4 separate regions of the Homo sapiens genome follow, and all the other regions are linked to region 1. Evidence: fine-mapped expression QTL. A gene starts in region 1. Each other region holds a variant in brackets. All regions are shown on one strand. Distances are from middle to middle. Region 1 holds the start of CASTOR2 (cytosolic arginine sensor for mTORC1 subunit 2). Region 2 overlaps CASTOR2 (cytosolic arginine sensor for mTORC1 subunit 2). Region 3 has its middle 37 kb from the start of RCC1L. Region 4 overlaps GTF2I (general transcription factor IIi).

What was found. PIP is the estimated chance that this variant, and not a neighbour inherited with it, causes the effect.
Region 2: its variant is the best candidate, but not a certain one, in a credible set for the expression of CASTOR2 in tibial nerve (GTEx, PIP 0.83).
Region 3: its variant is the best candidate, but not a certain one, in a credible set for the expression of CASTOR2 in whole blood (INTERVAL, PIP 0.66).
Region 4: its variant is the best candidate, but not a certain one, in a credible set for the expression of CASTOR2 in whole blood (INTERVAL, PIP 0.52).

What each region holds. Positions count from the first base shown.
Region 1 is chr7:74,963,548-74,966,230 of GRCh38, forward strand. CASTOR2 (cytosolic arginine sensor for mTORC1 subunit 2) reads left to right here and starts at 1,158. Exons shown (of 9, transcript NM_001145064.3): 1 at 1,158-1,551. The coding sequence starts at 1,439. RefSeq lists a silencer at 896-1,005.
Region 2 is chr7:75,020,000-75,022,682 of GRCh38, forward strand. It overlaps CASTOR2 (cytosolic arginine sensor for mTORC1 subunit 2), which reads left to right. Exons shown (of 9, transcript NM_001145064.3): 6 at 40-150; 7 at 1,875-1,957. Among named protein-coding and RNA genes, the nearest start is that of RCC1L, 52 kb to the right of the region's middle. The variant G/A (reference allele first, on the strand shown) is at 1,496.
Region 3 is chr7:75,034,996-75,037,678 of GRCh38, forward strand. It overlaps a transcript of RCC1L not described here. Among named protein-coding and RNA genes, the nearest start is that of RCC1L, 37 kb to the right of the region's middle. The variant C/CTT (reference allele first, on the strand shown) is at 1,121.
Region 4 is chr7:74,681,654-74,684,336 of GRCh38, forward strand. All of the region lies in intron 1 of GTF2I (general transcription factor IIi), which reads left to right. Among named protein-coding and RNA genes, the nearest start is that of GTF2I, 25 kb to the left of the region's middle. The variant A/G (reference allele first, on the strand shown) is at 1,635.

The DNA.
Region 1 (2,683 bases):
AAATAAATAAAAGAAAAAGAGTAAAAGAAAATAAAGTGGGAGGGGGATATGCATGCTCTAAGATCTATCTACCACAGATTACAGGCTTTTCACCCTTTTGTGGAAATGACAAAACCTAGTATGTTCCTACCTAACAGAGGAGGGCTGAGGGAAGGTGAGGGAGCACAACTGCAATTTTCCCCTGAAAGAGAGTTCTCAGCCTGCCCTGGCAGATAGATCTCACCCATCGCGTCCCCAGATTACTCTGCCAAAGGTGGAAGCACCAATCACTTTAACCCAGAACATTTCAAAACCAGACAGCCATGAAGGAGGAACCTCTGTGGTCCCGGCGCGTGGGCCCTGGGGTTGGAAGTGCCTCAGACGCACTTTACATTTTCCCCGAATTCACCCTTCGCAGTCCCCATCACCCCCTCTCCAGTGGGATAAATGGCCACCTCATTAGCTCTGCACACATGACCCTCCCGACCTGACTCCTGGTGACTATGCCTGCCTTATCTCTTTTCTCTCCTCCCTCACATTTTCCGCTGCAACAAAGCCAAACACAGCACCGTGGGGGCTTTCACGCTTCTGTGCCCTAGGACACGCTGTTCCTGCAGCCTGGAAGGCCTCTGTCCTCCATCCGCGCGCCCTCACTCTCTTGCTACGAACTCCCATTCATCCTTCAAAACCCAGCCTGAGTGTCCCCTCCCCCGGGTCACCCCCTTTGACCTGTCAATCCCCTCCCTCCGGGTCCCCAGCAAGCTTTTCGGTTTGGCTTCTCTGCACTCTCATGACCGATTGCCCTACATCTTGGCGCTCCCAGACTCGGGCCTTCTCCAGCACCGGAGTCGTCTGGTTTGCTCGCTTTACACTCCAAGCACCTAGTACCGAGCCTGACTGGGTGCCAGAGGGCGCGCCTAGGCTCAGGCTGGCTCCACCCGCCCCGTGCCTCCCCTCGGCCTTCCCCTTAGTCCTGAGGGTGCCCGCGCTCCTGCATTTCCCGTGCACCGGGCTGCCGGTAGCTCCGGCCGCCCAGCCCCCGCGGCAGCAACAGCAGCAACAGCACCGGGGGAGCCCCCCCCCAGGCGGACTACAAGTCCCGGCAGGCCGCGCGCGGGCCGCGCATGCGCAGCGGGGACCGGCGTTTGAGTGGCAAGTTGTTTGTTACAGCGAACACCAGCTGCTCCCCGCGCCGGGCGCCGCGCGCCGCTGCTCCGCCGCTCGGCCCCTCGGCTGCTGCTCCGCCGGCGCTGCCTCCCTCGCCCCGCGGCTCCCCCTTGCAACTTGGCGGGCCTCCTCCCTTTTGTCCGGCCCGGCCCGGCCGCCGCCGCCCCCCGCGCCCGGCGCCGAGCTCCCGGGTCTCCGGGCCGGCTGTCGGTGCCGGCAGGGCGCGGAGGGGGCGGGGGCCGCGGCTCGTCCCCCCGCGGATGAGCCGCCGCGGACGGGGCGCGGGCGGACGATGGAACTCCACATCCTGGAGCACCGGCTGCAAGTTGCCAGCGTCGCCAAGGAGAGTATCCCGCTGTTCACCTACGGCCTGATCAAACTTGCCTTCCTGTCCTCCAAGACCAGGTAAGCGCGCGGGGACGCGGCGCCGGCCGGGGACAGACAAAGGGGGCGCACCCCGGGCCGCTGTCCTCGCCGCCGCGCCTCGGAAAACAACTTCGGGCCCCGGGAGCGCCCCCGCCCCGCCCCCGCCGCCGCTTCGCTCGCGTCTGACAAAGCCGGAGCCGCAGGGTCCTGGCTCCCGGACCCCTCGCAACCTTCCACCCCCCGGTGCGCCACCCCCCACCTCTGTCGTCCCCCCCATCTCCCACCCCCTCCCCCATCGCAGCCCCCTCCCCGAAATCCGGGGGGCTGGGGCGGCTGCAGTGACGGATCCGTGAATGGATGAAGGAACGAACGAATGAATGAATGAAAAACAGGTGTGGGGACGAGGCCGTGGAAAAAACAAACGCCCCCATCCCCCCATCCCTCGGTTGGGCCGGCCCCGTCGCCACGGCGGGGGGAGGGATTCCGCTGAGCGCGGTTACCCAGAGCAGAAAATCATAAAATCATTAGTGGGTGTTTATCTCAAGGTGCCTACGAGGCTTGCTGCGGACGGCCTGGAATTGCGGGGGGGAAACGGGGGGTGGGCGAGGGCCAGGGAGGGGCTGCAGAGGACGTGATTCTTTCTCCTTGGGGTCCTGGAAAGGGGGTGGGGGGGTGTTTTGCCCAACCGTAGAAGGGGAGGAGCAGGCATGTTTATGCATCTGCCTTGAGGCTGGGCTTGGATGCTGCAGGGGGAAAAATAGTTGAAGGCCTTGGAAGGTAAAAGAGGGAATCACACACACACACACACACACACACACACACACTCTCTCTCTCTCTCTCTCTCTCTCTCTCTCACTTGGATTTTCCCTATGCCAGGTAAGGGTTTGACATTGTGAGCCCCGGTGGGTGCTTGCATTAGGGTTTTGTTGTTGTTGTTTAAGGAGCCTGAGCCGAGGGGAGTGTGAGTGCCAGCTAGCTGCTGTAACTTAAGTCTCATTTGCCCACCATTGTGACTGTTAAAAAGGAATGATAAAGTTGTTACTGGTTGGTTTTTCGCGGTTTGGGGCGGTGGTGGCTCTCCCTCACTGCAAAATGAATGAATACTTTTCGGGTCAAGGTTAGCGTGAAAATGACAGCCCCCTTAGGCTGCCCCCTTTGGCACTGAGCTCTA
Region 2 (2,683 bases), 56 kb after region 1:
ACAGGGGCCCCATCTTTACCAGCTGCCTCTGGTCCCCAGAGTGAAGGACCCCATGGCCACTGGGGATGACTGCGGCCACATCCGCTTCTTCTCCTTCTCCCTCATCGAGGGCTACATCTCCCTGGTGATGGACGTGCAGACGCAGCAGAGGTGAGCCAGGCCCTGGGGTGGACGTTCAACCCAGGGTGGGCCCCAGGGTCTGGGGGGACTATGTGATGGCACATCACCCACTTTGTCTTTTATTTGTTGTTGTTTTTTTTTGATACGGGGTCTCGCTCTGTCGCCCAGGCTGGGGTGCAGTGGTGCGATCTCGGCTCAAGGCAACCTCCACCTCTCAGGTTCAAGCAATTCTCCTGCCTCAGCTGGGACTACAGGCATGTGCCACCATGCCCAGCTAATTTTTGTATTTTTAGTAAAGACAGGGTTTTGCCATGTTGGTGAGGCTGGTCTCAAGCTCCTGACCTCAGGCAATCCGCCCGCCTCAGGCGTGATTTTTTTTTTTTTTTTTTTAGACGGAGTCTCGCTCTGTCGCCCAGGCTGGAGTGCAGTGGCACTATCTCGGCTCACTGCAAGCTCCACCTCCCGGGTTCATGCCATTCTCCTGCCTCAGCCTCCCAAGTAGCTGGGACTACAGGCGCCGCCACCACGCCTGGCTAATTTTTTGTATTTTTAGTAGAGACCAGGTTTCACCATGTTAGCCAAGATGGTCTGGATCTCCTGACCTTGTGATCTGCCCGCCCCGGCCTCCCAAAGTGCTGGGATTACTGGCATGAGCCACCGCAACCAGCCTGATTTTTTTTATTTTTATTTTTGTTGAGACAGGATCTCTCTCTGTCACCCATGCTGGAGTGCAGTGGTGCAGTCTTGGCTCACTGCCACCTCTGCCTCCCAGGTTCAAGTGATCCACATGTCTCAGCCTCCTGAATAGTTGGGACTACAGGTGCCTGCCACCACACCTGGCTAATTTTTGTATTTTTATTTTATTTTTTTTTAATATTTATTTACTTTTTGAGACAGGGTCTCACTCTGTTGCCCAGGCTGGAGTGCAGTGGCGCGATCTCAGCTCACTGCAACCTCCACCTCCCAGGTTCAAGTGATTCTCCTGCCTCAGCCTCCCGAGTAGCTGGAACTACAGGCGCACACCACCATACCCTGTTTATTTTTGTATTTTTTGTAGAGACAGGGTTTTGCCATGTTGGCCAGGCTGCTCGTGAACTCCTGACCTCAAGTGATTCACCCACTTTGGCCTCCCAAAGTGCTGGGATTACCGGCGTGAGCCACCGCACCTGGCCAATTTTTGTATTTTTCGTAGAGATGGGGCTTCGCCATGCTGACCAGGCTGGTCTCCAACTCCTGACTGCATGTGATCTGCCAGTCTCGGCCTCCCAAAGTGCTGGGATTACGGGTGTGAGCCACCACGCCCTGCCACTTTGTCTCTAATAAACCCTCACCATAGCACTTCATCATAAGTAAGCTGGTCCCCCAGCTCAGAGAG[G/A]TGCAGGGGTTGTCCGAGGTCCACTGTGGGGTGGTGGCAAAGTGGGGATTTGAACCGCAGCCCCGGTGCTATTTCTCCCTCAGCTTGTGCTCTGGACCTGGGAAGAGGTGTCTAGACCAGCCTTAGCAAGGGTTTGGGGAGGGGCTTGTTACAAAGCCCAGCCTGACATCACCCTCCCCATCCGCCTCCCCTCAAGACGAGGAGGCCGCCGGGCGAATGGGTCCAGGGTGTCTGGAAGGGATTGTTTTTGGGGGGCCCTGAGGTCTGCCCAACCCTGCCTGGCCAGCCCCATGCCTCGCTCTGGCTGGTGCACCAGCACACCAAGGAGGGAGTGCAATTCACATCAGCCTCGGGGATTCTTCTCTCGCTCCTTTTGAAGGTTTCCTAGTAACTTGCTGTTCACAAGCGCATCCGGAGAGCTCTGGAAGATGGTCCGGATTGGAGGACAGCCCCTGGGGTTTGGTGAGTCCTGGGGGGATTACATGGGGAATTGAGGGAGCTGGCATTGCTGAGCCCATTCACATACGTTGTCCGCAGTGACTCGGCCCCTGCTGGGGGGTACAGATGGGGAGACTGAGGCTTGGGGAGCCTGAAATTTCTGTTGCTCACTGGTGTGTGGCAGCTGTACACAGGCCTCTTGGGGAAGTGCGGAGCAGGCTTCAATCGGAGTGCTTTTATTTTGCCCCCTCTTGAAATTTAATATGTTGCTTATTATTAGAAAATTAAGCAGCTGGGCGCGGTGGCTCGTGCTTGTAATCCCAGCACTTTGGGAGGCCGAGGTGGAAAGATCCATTGAGCCCAGGAGTTCTGTACCAGCCTGGGAAACATAGCGAGGCCCTGTCTCTACCAAAATTTTTAAAATTAGCTGGGCATGGTGGCTGGCGCCTGTAATCCCAGCTACTCAGGAGGCTGAGGCAGGAGGATTACTTGAGCCTAAGAGTTCAAGGCTACAGTGAGCCATGATCATGCCATTGTACTCCAACCTGGGTGACAGAGCAAATCTTTGCCTCTAAAAATAAAAAAAGAGGCTGGGCGAGTTAGCTCGTGCCTGTAATCCCAGGTCTTTGGGAGGCCGATGCAGGTGGATCACCTGAGGTCAGGAGTACCAGCCTGGCCAATATGACGAAACCCCATGTCTACTAACAATACAAAAAATTGGCCAGGCACAGTGGCGTGCGCCTGTAATCC
Region 3 (2,683 bases), 71 kb after region 1:
TGGGCACCAAGAGGGTTCCCTAATTTATTTATTTACATTTATGTATTTATTTAGAGATGGAGTCTCGCTCTGTCACCCAGGCTGGAGTGCAGTGGAGCAATCCAAGCTCACTGCAGCCCCCAACTCCCAGTTTCAAGTGATTCTCGTGCCTCAGCCTCCCCAGTAGCTAGGACTATAGGCACACACTGCCACACCCAGCTAATTTTTATATTTTTAGTAGAGATGGGGTTTTGCCATATTGGCCAGGCTGGTCTCGAACTCATGACCTCAAGTGATCCGCCCGCCTCGGCCTCCCAAAGTACTGGGATTACAGGCATGAGCCACCGCGCCCGGCCTGGGTCCCTACTTTAGCAGCAGAAACACAAGAAAAGCAGGCAGAAAGCCTGCCATGAGCCTGCAAGGAACAGCCCAAGTTGTATGCAGGGAAATAAATATTCAGTATCTTGGAATTTACAGAGTGTGTTGTAGATTAAATGACGCAAATGTCAAAACTCAAAAAAATTAAATGAATGAGCAGCAACTCCACTCCTAGGTATACATCCATGAAAATTGAAAACTTATGTTCACACAAAAACATTCCAGAAACAAAACGCTGGGCCAATGTGAAACTTATACATGAATGTTTTGACATTATTTATAATGGTCAAAAAGTGAAACCAACCCAAATGTCCAGCAACTGATGAATAAATATGCAAAATGTTATATTATATATTAAAAAAAAAAAGCCTGGGCGAGGTGGCTCATGCCTGTAATCCCAACACTTTGGAAGGCTGAGGCAAGAGAATCATTTGAGCCCAGGAGTTCAATACCACCCTGGGCAACACAGTGAGGTCCCCCCATCTCTACAAAAAATTTTAAAAATTAGCCGGGCATGGCTTGCGTGCCTGTAATCCCAGCCACTTAGGAGGCTGAGACAGGAGGATTGCTTGAGCTCAGGAGTTCAAGGCCGCAAGGAGCTATGATCGCACCACTGTACTCCAGCCTGGGCAACAGAGCAAGACCGTCTCAAAAACTAAAAGTTTCCAGATGATTCTATGGTATAGTGTTGTACAAGCAGGGTTGAGAATGAGAACCCCAGGTTTGAGGGGTAGAATCTGCTCCAAGGAATCCCAAAGTCACT[C/CTT]TTTTTTTTTTTTTTTTTTTGAGATGGAGTTTTGCTCGTTTCCCAAGCTGGAGTGCAATGGTGTAATCTTGGCTCACTGCAACCTCTGCCTCCCGGGTTCAAGCAATTCTCCTGCCTCAGCCTCCCGGGTAGCTGGGATTACAGGCATGTGCCACCATGCCCGGCTAATTTTGTATTTTTAGTAGAGACGGGGTTTCTCCATGTCCATGTTGGTCAGGCTGGTCTCGAACTCCCGACCTCAGGTGACCTGCCCGCTTAGCCTCCCAAAGTGCTGAGATTTACAGGCGTGAGCCACCACACCCTGCCCAAAGTCCCTCTTATGAACATCATTGCCTTGGCTGCTCTGCAGGGCAGGTGGCAGACCAGCCACAAGACACACACCCTTGAAAGCAGGCATCCTTCTCACCACCCCATCTGCAGCTCCTGGCATACAGTACGTGCTGAGGAGCACGTGGTTTATCAATCATCTTCTTCATCTTCAATATTTTTCTCCCGGGGCCAGGTGCGGTAGCTCACGCCTGTAATCCCAGCACTTTGGGAGGCCGAGGTGGGCGGATTACATGAAGCCAGGAGTTTGAGACCAGCCTGGCCAACATGGTGAAACCCCGTCTCTACTAAAAATATTAAGACAAAAATTAGCTGGAGTTGGTGGTGCACGTCTGTAGTCCCAGCTATTCGGGAGGCTGAGGCAGGAGAATCACTTGAACCACCCAAAAGGCAGAGCTTGCAGTGAGCTGAGATCGCACCACTGCATTCCAGCCTTGGTGACAGAGTGAGACTCTGTCTCAAAAATATATATATGTAATTTTCCTCCTGGAATGCACATCAACTGCTGGAGTTGTGGAACCAGCTACCACCGTTAGCCTGAGCCTATCCAGTCTGAGGCCCCAAGGAGGGAACTCAAACGGGGCATCCTTCCGACTGGCGTGACTTCATGTGCTCCACTCTGGCCTCCTGGGATTCAGCTGCCACTTGCTACCAGAGCAAGAGTAAGATGTTTCTCCGGAAAAACAAGTGCCTCCTGGTTGGAGGTGACAACAGTATCTAGGTTTATCCATTTATTTATTTACGTATTTATTTATTTATTGAGACAGAGTCTCAATCTGTCACCCCGGCTGGAGTGCCGTGGTGTGATCTCGACTCACTGCAAACTCTGCCTCCCTGGTTCAAGCGATTCTCCTGCCTCAGCCTCCCAAGCAGCTGGGATTACAGGCATGTGCCAACATACCCAGCTAATTTTTGTATTTTTAAAAAGTAGAGACGGTGTTTCACCATGTTGGCCAAGCTGGTCTTGAACTCCTGACCTCAGGTGATCCGTCCGCCTCGGCCTCCCAAAGTGCTGGGATTACAGGCGTGAGCTACCACCACCCCTGGCCATGGTTTATATCTTTTTTTTTTTTTTTTTGGGAGACGGAGTCTCGGTCTGTCTCCCAGGCTGGAGTGCAGTGGCTCAATCTTGGCTCACTGCAACCTCCGCTTCCTGGATTCCAGCAATTCTCCTGCCTCAGCCTCCCAAGTAGCTGGGACTACAGGCACGTGCCATCACACCCAGCTAATTTTTGT
Region 4 (2,683 bases), 280 kb before region 1:
GTAATCCTAGCATTTTGGGAGCCCAAAGCAGACGGATCAACTGAGATCAGAAGTTCGAGACCAGCCTGGCCAACATGGCAAAATCCTGTCTCTACTAAAAATACAAAAATTAGTCAGACGTGGTGGTGCACGCCTGTAATCCCAGCTACTCGGGAGGCTGAGGCAGGAGAATCACTTGAACCCAGGAGGTGGAGGTTGCAGTGAGTTGAGATTGTGTTACTGCACTCCAACCTGGGCGATAAGTGAGACTCCGTCTCAAAAAAAAAAAAAAAGTAATGGGAGGATGTGATAGTTCTCTGCCTCTGGGATCACAGGACAGGAATGTGGTACGCATGAAGGTGCATGTGGCTGTCAGGTCTGCCTTAGGGAGGACACCCTTCTGCTTAAGCTGAGAGAATTCTAATGACTTATTTTGTGGTTTTGGATCTAGCTATATGTGGAGCCAGTATAACCTTTAGACTTAATTAATTAAATGAAGCAATAAAAGTTCTCTTTTGTACTTGATCTTGTTTGAATTGGGAATTGGTAACCTCGCAATCTAAAGTAGTTCTGGCTAATTCATAAATTGTTCTTGAGAATAAAGGATATGGAAGGTATGGTTCCCAGAGTTGGTGAGGTTAGTTATTCTTACTGAAAACAACCAACACTGTTGTAAAATTATAAAACAAAACTTTTGTGAAAACACCAGAAAGTTGAAAAGTAGAGAAAATTTGAAGGGCTGGGTTATGGGAACTCAATTGACAGAAGTGAGAATTACTCTTGTCCTGAAGGCAAACATTTCACCACTTGACCTTGAGTTTTAAAAGCTTTGTGGGGTGAGAGACTCAGAATAGTCTGCATCCTTACTTGTGGCCTGGGTTAACTTCTACTGGGTGGGCCAAGGAACCAAGTCTCGAACTTGGATTAGAGTGATTCTAGGCAGGTGTTGTCTCTTGACACCTGGAGGAAGCTGCCTTCACCCTAGGCTTAAGATTATAAGTAATTTTTTCACGTAAAATAACTAACTCACTAAGATAATTAGGCATAGAAGGGAATAAGAACCATGCATAAGGGTAAGAACCACTGGGAACAACAGAAATAGTCCTGCAAAAACTTGAGATTTGGAATTATCAGAGACTATAAAATAACTGCCCCATTACCAAAGAAATATGACAATCTTGAAATTCCTTAGAGAGTAGGAAACTATAAAATATGACTTAGCAGTAACTAGAAATCATAGAAATGAAAATTACAAACAAAATTAAAAACCGGATAGGTGTTTTAACAACAGAATAAAAAGATGAAGAAGGAGTTAGTGAAATGGAAGGTAAGCCAGAAGAAATAATTGTTTAGTATGGAGAAGAAAACGTAAAAAAAGGTAAGAAGCTAAAAGGATAAAGTGATGACTAACATACATTAATGTGAGTCCCAGTAGGATAGGAGATAGAGAATGGGGCAGAATCTAAAGAGACAATAGCTTAGAGTTTTCCACATCGAAGGATACCATTTCATAGTTAAGCCCATGAATGACAGACATATGTTTAATAAAAATAAAATCTACACCTAGAATACACAGTGAAACTGTAGAAAACATCTTAGACAAAGAAAACCTCTTAAAAACAGCAGGAGTAGGAATGGGAATCACCTAAAAAGAG[A/G]CCGTAGATTACTTCTCAATAGCGACAGTGGAAGCCAAAATATAATGACACCAACAGATAATGAAATAACCTTAGTGTGCTGAAAGAATATAATTGTCAACCTAGGTTTCTATTCCAGCGAAAATACCTTTCAAGAAAAATTTTTTAGCAAACAAAAACAGTTTGTCACCAGAGGACAGCAGGAACACAAAAGAATGAGCAAATTATGTCATAAATACGTGGTTACATCTAAAGGAAAATTAAATTAAGCAAAAATAGTGTTGCATCTAAAAATACAGAATTAGGCCGGGTGCGGTGGCTCACGCCTGTAATCTCAGCACTTTGGGAGGCTGAAGCGGGCAGATCACCTGAGGTCAGGAGCTCAAGACCAGCCTGCCCAATGTGGTGAAACCCCATCTCTACTAAAAATACAAAAATTACCCGGGTGTGGTGGCGGGCGCCTGTCATCCCAGCTACTCGGGAGGCAGAGGCAGGAGAATTACTCGCACCCAGGAGCTGGAGATTTCAGTGAGCCAGGATCGTGCCACTGCACTCCAGCCGGGGCAACAGAGCGAGACTCCTTCCCCCCACCAAAGAAAAAAAAAACTTAAAAACTCGTACCTAGTTGCATTCCTTATGAGCACAGAGCAAAATGTCCTCATTTTACCTGGTTTAATTTTTTTTTTCTTCCACGGCCTCTTTTACTGGGAGACCTCTGAGTTTTGATGTGTCATGACAGATAGGAGAGGTCATATCCTTGTGATTTGTGGTTCATTGCTGGTGACATCAGAAAGTAAAGTCAACCAGGAAAAGACTCCATGGGCCTGGCTCAGGTGGCTTCTGGAGCACCACCTCCATCAAGGAGCTTTTCCTGGGGTCCATGTGTAGTCCATGTTGCCTGCTCTCCCACCCAGGGTTGCTGTGCTTATTATACAAGATGGCCAATAAAGCATGACATATATTCAATAAATGTTCATTTCTTTTTCCAACCCTTCTTATTTTAAGTTGAGGGTATTCATAAAAGGGATTGAGCATTTCCATTTATGGACGAGGCAACTGAGTACAGCCCC